Linked DNA regions of Homo sapiens: all the other regions are reported to be linked to region 1. Evidence: microRNA targets listed by miRTarBase, many of them from high-throughput screens and not tested one by one. Region 1 holds a microRNA gene; each other region holds the end of a gene's coding sequence.
The links. The annotated mature microRNA hsa-miR-181a-5p reads AACAUUCAACGCUGUCGGUGAGU and lies in region 1 at 1,211-1,233, shown strand. An mRNA with a match to its seed (bases 2 to 7 or 8) in the 3' UTR can be bound and repressed. Matches are read on the target gene's strand: a 7mer-m8 pairs with bases 2 to 8, a 7mer-A1 pairs with bases 2 to 7 and ends in A, and an 8mer does both.

Region 1 (3,260 bases):
AAGGTAAACAGTTTACATTCAAACCTAAATCTCAGTGGTTGATATTTTTTCTTTTAACGTGTACCATTTGGCTGCTTTAAAAATGAATTTGAGACCAGTCAGCCTTTAGTATTTAAACCTAAAGCAAATAGTAATAACTATCCCCATTTAGAGATTAACTTCAATTCAGCAGGCAGTTCTGTAAGCCCTTTTCCTATTAAGTATTCCTAGATCTGTCCCATTGTAAATCACATATTCTGAAGATTCATATTATTAATTCATTTTTCAAATTTTTCATCACAGACATTCAACAGAATCAAAAATAACCACTATGTCCTATAATGTACTGGTATCGTTTCAGCCAGAACAAATGACATCTGACATTTTAGTTACACTCTGTGTTCTCAACTAAGAAGAAATGCAAGCTTTACATTAGGTGGTGGGTTTTTGGTTTATTTTTTGCTTTTTCAATATGGAAAATAGCTTGTGGACTATCACTAACACCTCTGTGGTAACTTAGTAATGCAGGATCTCAGCAAAGGAGATCATCAATCATGGAGGTCGAGGTTTTTCATCTTCCCCTATGACCTCACCTATAGACCTACCTGCTATTATTATAGGCAAACAAGTAGAAGAAATTTACATGTTTGACTTTGGCTCTGCAGTGATGGGTCTACTCCTAGATATCAACAGTAAGTTCTGTAGTAGACAACAGAAGCAGTATGATGAGTGAGCACTGGAAACATGAAGTCCAGTATTCAAATTCTGGCTTATAACCTTGGCTCCTGGCAATGTAACTTTAGGCAAATCACTTCAAGTTTTTTCATCAGGAAAATGTGGGTTGTTGAGAATTTAATGAGATAAAATATACAAATCCTAGTATATAGCAGATCCCCAATATATGTTAATCTCTTACCCTTGTTAACAATTAAAATACTACTGCAAAATCAGGTATTTTACATTTTTAGAATCACAAAATAATACCATTCAAAGACATTTTCTCAGACATTCATTTGAGTCTGCTTGTACAAATTACTGCACAGTCTATCCCACAGTTCATTAGTTCTCTGCTGCACACAAATTGATTTTATAATTTAAATACTCTCGACTTGAAACCCAGAGAGGAATGTAAGAGCATCCATCAGCGGTGGTCTCACTGCTCACTGGTTCTTGGGATGTGGATGGGAGAATGAAGAAGGGCTATCAGGCCAGCCTTCAGAGGACTCCAAGGAACATTCAACGCTGTCGGTGAGTTTGGGATTTGAAAAAACCACTGACCGTTGACTGTACCTTGGGGTCCTTACAGACGACACTACATTTCCTGAAGCAAAAGAGCAAGCTGTACCTTCACATGTCACATGAGTTCACCAGAAATGGTCCTGCAATCCCCCAAATGTGGTCCAGTGAATTTTATTCCTACTGCTCACTGTTCCTTGCTTTCTGTTGTGTGTTTTATTATTATTTGTTTGTTTTTACAAAAAAAGTGTTTCATTTCAACAAGGTAAGGAGCAGTCCATGATGATATCTAATGTACCTACATGTCTCCTAGATATGCACCATTCTGGTGAGAAACAGGACGTAGCAAGTAAAAATTTATTAAAAATACGTATTTTGTTTTGGAATAAAATCCAGTTAAATAATTACTCCCATTTCTCCCACATCCTCTCAAAATTTTTAATTAGGGGCAAGGGGAGGATTTAATAAGCAAAAATAGCACAAAATTATCCAATTGTGACAGTTCTTATCACATTTCACTTTGAATTATAGTTAATATGGTTAATTTTTGATATCCCAGTTAGAGCATGAGCTATTGCCTTACTAGTGCCCACATATCCCCACATATGCTTATTTAAATGTTTGCTAAATTCAAGCAAAAACTTAGCCCTGGAGTCAGTCAGATCTGGGATGAATCTTGGCTCAAGCCCTTAACTAGTTATTTGACCCCCTAAGCAAGTGTCTCAGTTTTCTCACATATAAAACAGAGGCTAAGAGTACCTATCATGGAGTTTTGAGACTCAATGAGATAATATATAAGGTGCTTTGTACCATTACTAGCCCACAGCAAATGCTCAATATATGTAAGCTGTTATTATTAAACTCCAACATAATCTGCTAATTTACCTCAAAAAAGCACTCATACTTCTCAGTTCAAAACAAAGAGGAAAAGCAGGTCCCTCAGCTGTGGTTTACAGGTACTAATATGCAAGCACTGCCTGTGTGGCGCAGTGCTACCTGTGAGGTTCTCCAAGCACTCCTTCCTTCTCTGAACCACAGCTTCCTCATCTGCAATAACCTCCCAGCTCCAATGTCAATGTTATGGACACCTGTGTGGGCCCTCAATCATGCAGATGGCTGGTTACTAAGGGAGAAGCCAGACACACAGACTTCAAAGAACTGAGATGGAAAAGAAGAGCCAGGAGTCAGCCAGGGAGGGCAAAGGCAACCCCACCAACTGAAAACACTGATGGCTGCACTCAACATTCATTGCTGTCGGTGGGTTTGAGTCTGAATCAACTCACTGATCAATGAATGCAAACTGCGGACCAAACAACCCAAAGGAAGCAAAAGCATGTGCAGAGAGTCGCCTGAGTGCAGCAGCTACTGCTGTGAGTGGGAGCTGCTACTATTTCCAAAACACTAGCTAAAGCTTTTCTTGTTCTCCTTGGTTCTAACATGGAGTAAGTTCTCTAAATTCCTAGTACTTTTCTCCTTTTTCAATAGTCTAGATTTAAGGAAATGATATTTTATAGGAAGAATTAAATACATATCTGGATATCACATCACATTTTAAAAATCAGTACATTCAGAATTTCTAAACAGAATCATATGCTTATTATTTAGAAATTCAAATACAAAAATATACAAAGTAAAAATTGAAAATCCCTTCAATCATCATCTGCAATCCATTTCCTCGGAGGAAAACATGTATAATTATAATAAACTTATTAAGATAATAAATATCATAACTAGAATTTATTTTATATCCTTGAAGACCTTTATCCATACATACACAGATAAATAGCTGTAATTTTGCATGTTTTGGGGGGAGAGTGGCTTAGACAAAAATAAGCTCATTTTTACCTATTGTTCTATAATCTATTTTGTTATTCAGCTATATATCATAGACTTCCACAACAGTCTTTTATGTACTCGTCATTCTTTTAAATGGCTATATAGTATGACTTAATATGAATGTTCTGGTTATTATTCAGATGTACATCAATATTCTCTTTTGACAAAAACTATGAGGCTCATTCATTCTAACCTTTGCAAACCATGTC
Region 2 (3,238 bases), not on the chromosome of region 1:
ATAGTTTGAAAGTTTTGTGCCTTGTTTTTGCCAACATAATTAAAAGCCAAAAGTACTGTTTGTTTTTAAAAAATCTATTTCATATAAAAGCCAGATTCTCTTCTTCCTTTCAAAATTGACTCTTAGCAGTTCCATATATTTATGATACTGTCAGAAATATTAGCTGATTATCACAATTCATTGTCTTAATGATCTCAGAAAAAAATTAAGAAACCGATTTCTCTTTCCAGCCTCCATCAAGAAATCGGCGAGAGAGAGCTGAGCTAAGGCCAGACTTCTTTGACTCTGCAGCTATCATAGAAGATGATTCAGTAAATGTCAAATTATTACTGCTTTTTATTTATGGTTCCTGGGTCCTGTTTATGCATGAAATTAATAATTATGTTTCTCATCATTTTTCTAGGGATTTGGAATGCCTATGTTCTGAAGTCTGAAGAAAATTTACAAATCTGGAACTCTATTATTTAGAGCTAGAGGCCTATATACTGTGATAGCTTGTATGGGGAAAAACACTTTTGATGTGATCTGATTTGTTTTTTAATCAAATGATTAAGGTCAATCCCTTTTTGCAGTGACAGAAGAGGAGCATGTAAATTACCCAAGGGAATGTTGGTGAATGTCAACTCAGAAAGACTGACCTGAAAATCATTTGTGTCCTACTATTGGACTTATCCCAATACAGATGTGTGTGTTTTTCTGGAGGGAGGAAGAAATTTTAAATTTTTAAAACAGCTGTCAAGATAAACACTGTTATACACCTGTTTTATGAAAACTCAACATTGAGTAAAAAAAAACATATTTTTAACTTTATTTTCCTGTTGTACAATTTAAAAACCGTTTTAACATTTTGCCTTTTTATGTTTTAAAAGCTAACCATTTTTATTAAACCTATGAGTAAGCAGCTCATCCTAATTGCGAAGAGTGTTTTGGAGTTCACTGGATTTGGTTGACCTTTGTGGAACACAAATAATGAAGGAGCAGAACATTGACAAGCTAAGATGAAATTCTGACATAGTACATCTCTGCCAAAAACCACACACCCTCTGTGGATATGGATATGAATTCCCAGATTTTATATACTCTTGAATAAAAGGTTTATTTTTATTTATAAGTGGGCATAAAATAAGAAATGTCCATGCAGCCATTTTTCCAACAGATGCTGTACACCGTTCATTTTATATAGACTAGGGAGATTCAAATACAGTGCATTTTCTATTGGTATTTGTTCTGTGCATTTTTAGCAACTTCTACCAGCAAATAAAGTATTCTCAGTAAAACGAAAATGATTCTCAAGTTATCAGTTTGCTGTTTTTACCACTTATTTCATGCCCTGCCAAATTCAAGTTACACAGACTTCCATTTTCTTAAGATAATCAATCATGAAGAAATCCTTTATCAATCATTCAAAAGTAATTTTAAGTGTAACATAACTGTGTTTACTTCCCATGCACTTAATACCCTTATGCGCTAATTTTGTGAATTAAGTTTACTGATTATAGAAGTATGTGCTGCATAGAAGTCTGTGCTTAGAGGGTGAAGTTCCTAAGCTTACCTTGAATTACAGCTACATTTCAGTGTTAAATGTGCATATTAAGAATAATTCTTTTGGGGAAAGAAATTATGAATCTTCAGGACAGTCTACAATGGTTTAGAGTTACATTCTGCCTAGACTTTTATGACTTGCTGCTATTGTTTTAAAAACCCCACTTAGTCTCTCTCTTCCTTTCTGATTTCTAAAGTAAGCCTCAGAATTTCCAAACCAATTCATCCACAGCTGTTTCTGGGCTGGTTTTTAAAGTAGCTGCAACAGAATCATGAGGCTTTCCCTTTTTATCAAATACGAAAAACATTTTTTAAAATTCTGCACACCCAGTGATCATCTTTTGTGCGGGAAAGCAAGATGATGATGGATGATTTTATTCATCCTTTTAGTAAAGACACAAAACATTTTTCTCAACATTTGTACAGTTCTGAAAAAAACCTGGTCACCAAAAATATCTTCTCTGCTAATTCAGCAATTCTTGGGCTCCAGTTAGGGGAGCTGGGGCCTCACTTTCTCCCAGAATTGTGGGCTTCACTGGAAGTGAAGGTGCAGGAATGACTGGACTGTCCACCCCAGCCCTGCCTGCCTGTGGTTTTGGCCAGGGAGCAAGCCATGAGGTGCCCTGGCACATGCACAAATTGATCCTTTGCGTGACAGTCTTGTATGGAAAACAGATGCTGACAGAATTGTAGACTACCATGCCACACAAAAAGGCTAAATATCTACTCCAATGGGTTTCCAGTTCAGTTTGAAGTCAATCAAATTTTTGTATTTTCGGTGTCTCCTTGATTGGTTTTGCTAGTAATTCTGTAAATTGTACATTTGCAATATGAGGTTTTTTTTCCTTTTGTACAATTTGAAACTGATGCTTCACCTTTCCTTTAATAAACTATTCAAAATCAGGCTTGTGGTAGTCATCCTATTGTTTCTACCAGGTATGGCTTTAAAGAGATGATTTTCTGTCCTGTGGCTCTTGAGAGAGTTTGCAATTTCTGATAATCTGTTAAATGGCAGCAAGTTAACCTTATTAGTGAGTTGGTGGTTTTGTTGTTTTGGCTTTTTAATTTTTTTTAAGAAAGCAGAATTTAGGAATAGCTCACTTTCTTTCATTCCTTAGATTTCTCTGGAGTGTGTGTAGGCCAAGTCATCTGTGGTTTAAGAGGGAGTCTCTTGCAAACTGAGTTTTGCATGAGGCATTCAGGGAACACCCATCCACTGGCCTGTAGCATGGGTCCTCACGGCTTGAGACTCTGGGCTTACATGCATAATTGCACCCTGGCAGTGCCCTTTTGAAGACCACATAGAGTCAATGCAGCTACAGAAATGAAGTTTTCAGCCAGGCATGGTGGCTCACGCCTGTAATCCCAGCACTTTGGAAGGCCAAGGTGAGTGGATCACTTGAGCTCAAGAGTTCGAGACCAGCCTGGGTAGCATGGTAAAACTCCTCTACAAAAAATACAAAAATTAGCTGCGTATGATGGCGCACACCAGCTACTCGTGAGGCTAAGGTAGGAGGATGGCTTGAGCCCACAAGGTGGAGGTTGTTGCAGTGAGCCAAGATTGCACCACTACTGCACTCCAATCTAGGTAACAGAGCCAGACTGTCTTAAAAAGTTTCTCTTGGCATTAGACCTCCTCACTCTTTCTTTAAGAAGTCATACCCTACACACTTCATGGGTCTGGCAATAGGGGGTG
Region 3 (3,260 bases), not on the chromosome of region 1:
CCCTGGGCTGCAACCCTCCTGCCATGGGCCCCGAGGATGTCCTTCGCCGTCTTGCGAGTGCTCCTGCACGTGGCGGTCCGGACTGTGGAGTGGGTCCACATGCTCCCCAGGGGCTGGGTTAGGGTAGGCGTGGGGTCCGGGTACTTAGCCTGCCTGTGGCTGCACAGGGACTGCCACCCTCTCCTCTTGCCAGTGTCCGCAGAGACCCTGGACCTGAGGGAGTCCCGGGCAGGAGGCAGGAGCCTGTGCTCTGGACCCAGCTGTGTTACCAATTCCCTGTATGACGTTGGACAGGTCCCCTCCTCTCTGAGTCAGAAGATCACCAAGGCCTGTTCCATCTGGAATGTTCTCGGCCTTGTAAAGTGTTTGGCCTCAACGGGCTGGAATTAAACTGGCTTTGCAGGAGAGCTACTGTCTTCCTACATAGCCAAGTCCCTGTGCCCCTCCCCTGCCCATGAAATGTGATTCTCTGCTTAGTGACAGGTGCCTTGTTTAACATAGAGGGAGTCTAACTGGAACCTGTTTTCCTTCTTCTTTCTAGGTGTTTAATGACGACCTTACCAAGCCAATCATTGATAATATTGTGTCTGATCTCATTCAGATTTATACCATGGACACAGAGATCCCCTAAGGTCCTGGCCCAGGCCTGCCCAAAGAGAAGCCCAGGATGGTCGGCTGCCTGGGGACATTGTCACCACGTCGCCATGACGGCTGGTCCCCACAGGACCAGCTGGGAGGACTGGTTGTGCTGCTGGAGAAGGGCTGGAGAAGGCAATGGCATGCTGCCGCTTTGCCAGTCCCTAGAAGTCGCGGTGCAGGTGATGGTGGGAGCCGCGCCTCCAGCGGGCAGGCCGGGAGTGTACTGTGTGCAGCTGACCCAAGGCAGCCACATCTGCGTTTGTCCTTTGAGAGGACTTTGACTACAATACAGGCATGACATCAATGAAAGGAAAGTCATGAAATCGATGAGACTGAATCCCTACGGATTTCTTAAAAGCCAGATTTGTAGGGAGAATGAATGTGCAACGTGGCTGAAATCTATTTTGTGTAATAAAAGGTGATACAAGTCAATAGGGACCCTTGGCTTTGCTCTGCAGCGCATGCTGCACATGGGGGTGTGAGGGGCCCTCAGAGACTGGTTCCCTCAGAGTGCTCTCAGGTAGAGTGTGTCCCAGCCATCAGGCGGCAGGCCTGGGGTTAGGGAGGATCACTTGCATTCAGAAAAGTGAGTCCTGATCGAACGTAACTAAAAGTAATGCGTTTTTAAATGTCAAGGTAGCCAGTCTGGATGGGGAGGCTGGAGAAACTCAGAGCTGTGGCCCCCAGCACCCCTCTGACTCCTTGCTCAAAAGCCAGTGGGTAAGAAATAGACCAGTCCAGGAGGCGCTCTCTAGGTCCCCTTTCAGGCTAGACGTACGTTCAGCACGTGGCGTAGGGCCGGGGGACTGGTAGGTTTACACAGGAGGGTGGGCTCCGGCTCCTGCAGGTGTGGGGGCAGGGGTGATGCAGGTCAGGGCAGAGTCTTGCTTGACTTTACAGAGCGACTATGTTCAGTGTCTTCAGAATGAAGTATCTGAGCAGATGTCACAGGCTTCCCTGGTGGGCAGGCTTGCCCTGGCTGACCTGCCCTTCATTTCGTAGAACTCCCCTGTGGGTTTTGATGATTAACTTCTCCTAAATGTGGGCTCCTGCTTTACCTGTTGTAAGCCTTTTAAGACTAATCAGTCAAAGAACCACATTTATTGAGCAGCTACTGTGTGCCCAGTCCTTGCCTGCGCTCTGGCAACCAGGTGAAACTCCTTGCTTATGTGGAGGGAGAGATGGGAAACAGAATGAGAATGTGTAGCGTGGTAGTGAAAAGAGGAAGGAAGAGAAGGTGGCCAGGGCTCAGAAGAATTAATATGGTAAAAATGGCCCTCATGGCCAGGTGTGGTAGCTCACACCTGTAATCCCAGCACTTTGGGAGGCCGAAGTGGGTGGATCATCTGAGTTCAGGAGTTTGTAGACCAGCCTGGCCAACATGGCAAAACCCCGTCTTTACTAAAAATACAAAAATTAGCCGGACATGGTGGTGGATGCCTGTAATCTCAGCTACTTGGGAGGCTGAGGCAGGAGAATCGCTTGAACCTGGGAGGCGGAGGTTGCAGTGAGCCGAGATTGCGCCACCATACTCCAGCCTGGGCGACAGACGGAGACTCTTATCTTTTTTTTTTTTTTAAAAAAAGAAAATATTCACAAACTCTACGTCTGACAAGGGGTTAATATCCAGAATATATAAGGAATTTAGACAACAGAATAACAACCTAATTTAAAAATGGGCAATAGACCTAAACAGACATTTCTCCAAAGAAGACGTACAAGTCGCCAACAGGTATGTGAAAAAATTGCTCAACGTCAGGAATCAGGGAAATGCAAATCAAAACCACATCGAGGATATCACCTCACTTCAATTAGAATGGCTACTATCAAACAAAAGAAAACAAGCTTTGGTGAGGATGTGGAGAAAAGGGAACATTCACACACTACTGGTGGGATATACTATAGCCACTATGGAAAACAGTATGGATATTCCTCAAACATTTTAAAAATAGGCAGGGGATGGTGGCTCAGGCCTGTCATCCCAGCTCTTTGGGAAGCGGAAGTGGGAGGATCATTTGAGCCCAAGAGTTCAAGACCAGCTTGGGCAACATATGAAGACCTCTTGTCTATTAAAAAAAAAAAAATTAGGCCAGGCACTGTGGCTTATGCCTGTATTCCCAGCACTTTGGGAGGCCGAGGCAGGAGGATGGCTTGAGCTCAGCAGTTCGAGACAAGACAAGACAAAAGACAAGACACAGGAAAGACAAGACAAGACAAAAGACAAGACACAGGAAAGACAAGACAAGACACATTTTAGCATTCAAATACATTTTAACATTCCAAGAAACGAAGAGTGGGTTCTGGAGTTAGACCACTTGGCTGTGAAGGCTGGTTCTATCACCCGTGTATCTTGGGCTAATTCATCCACCCCTTTTTCTTTTCTTTTTTCTTTTCCCCTTCCTTCCTTCCCTCCCTCCCTCCCTTTCTTCTTTTCTCCTTCCCTCCCTCCCTCCCTCCCTCCCCACTTCTTTTCTCTTTTCTCTTTTCTTTTCTCTCTTTTGCAATCATGGCTCACCACAGCCTTGGCCTCCTGGGCTCATTCGATCCTCCCACCTCAGCCTTCTGAGTAGCTTGGACTACAGGTGTGCACCACCGTGCCTGGCTAATTTTTTATTTTTATG

Region 2: miRTarBase lists STAG1 as a target of hsa-miR-181a-5p. Seed matches in the 3' UTR shown: 7mer-m8 at 614-620.
Region 3: miRTarBase lists CCNQ as a target of hsa-miR-181a-5p. Seed matches in the 3' UTR shown: 7mer-m8 at 1,016-1,022.

What each region holds. Positions count from the first base shown.
Region 1 is chr9:124,691,270-124,694,529 of GRCh38, forward strand. It overlaps MIR181A2 (microRNA 181a-2), which reads left to right and starts at 1,173; the gene lies at 1,173-1,282. All of the region lies in intron 2 of NR6A1 (nuclear receptor subfamily 6 group A member 1), which reads right to left. All of the region lies in intron 1 of MIR181A2HG (MIR181A2 host gene), which reads left to right. It overlaps MIR181B2 (microRNA 181b-2), which reads left to right and starts at 2,441; the gene lies at 2,441-2,529.
Region 2 is chr3:136,335,443-136,338,680 of GRCh38, reverse strand. It overlaps STAG1 (STAG1 cohesin complex component), which reads left to right. Exons shown (of 34, transcript NM_005862.3): 33 at 231-311; 34 at 404-2,445. The coding sequence ends at 427. Among named protein-coding and RNA genes, the nearest start is that of PCCB, 87 kb to the right of the region's middle.
Region 3 is chrX:153,585,736-153,588,995 of GRCh38, reverse strand. CCNQ (cyclin Q) reads left to right here. Exons shown (of 5, transcript NM_152274.5): 5 at 542-1,071. The coding sequence ends at 631. Among named protein-coding and RNA genes, the nearest start is that of CCNQ, 12 kb to the left of the region's middle.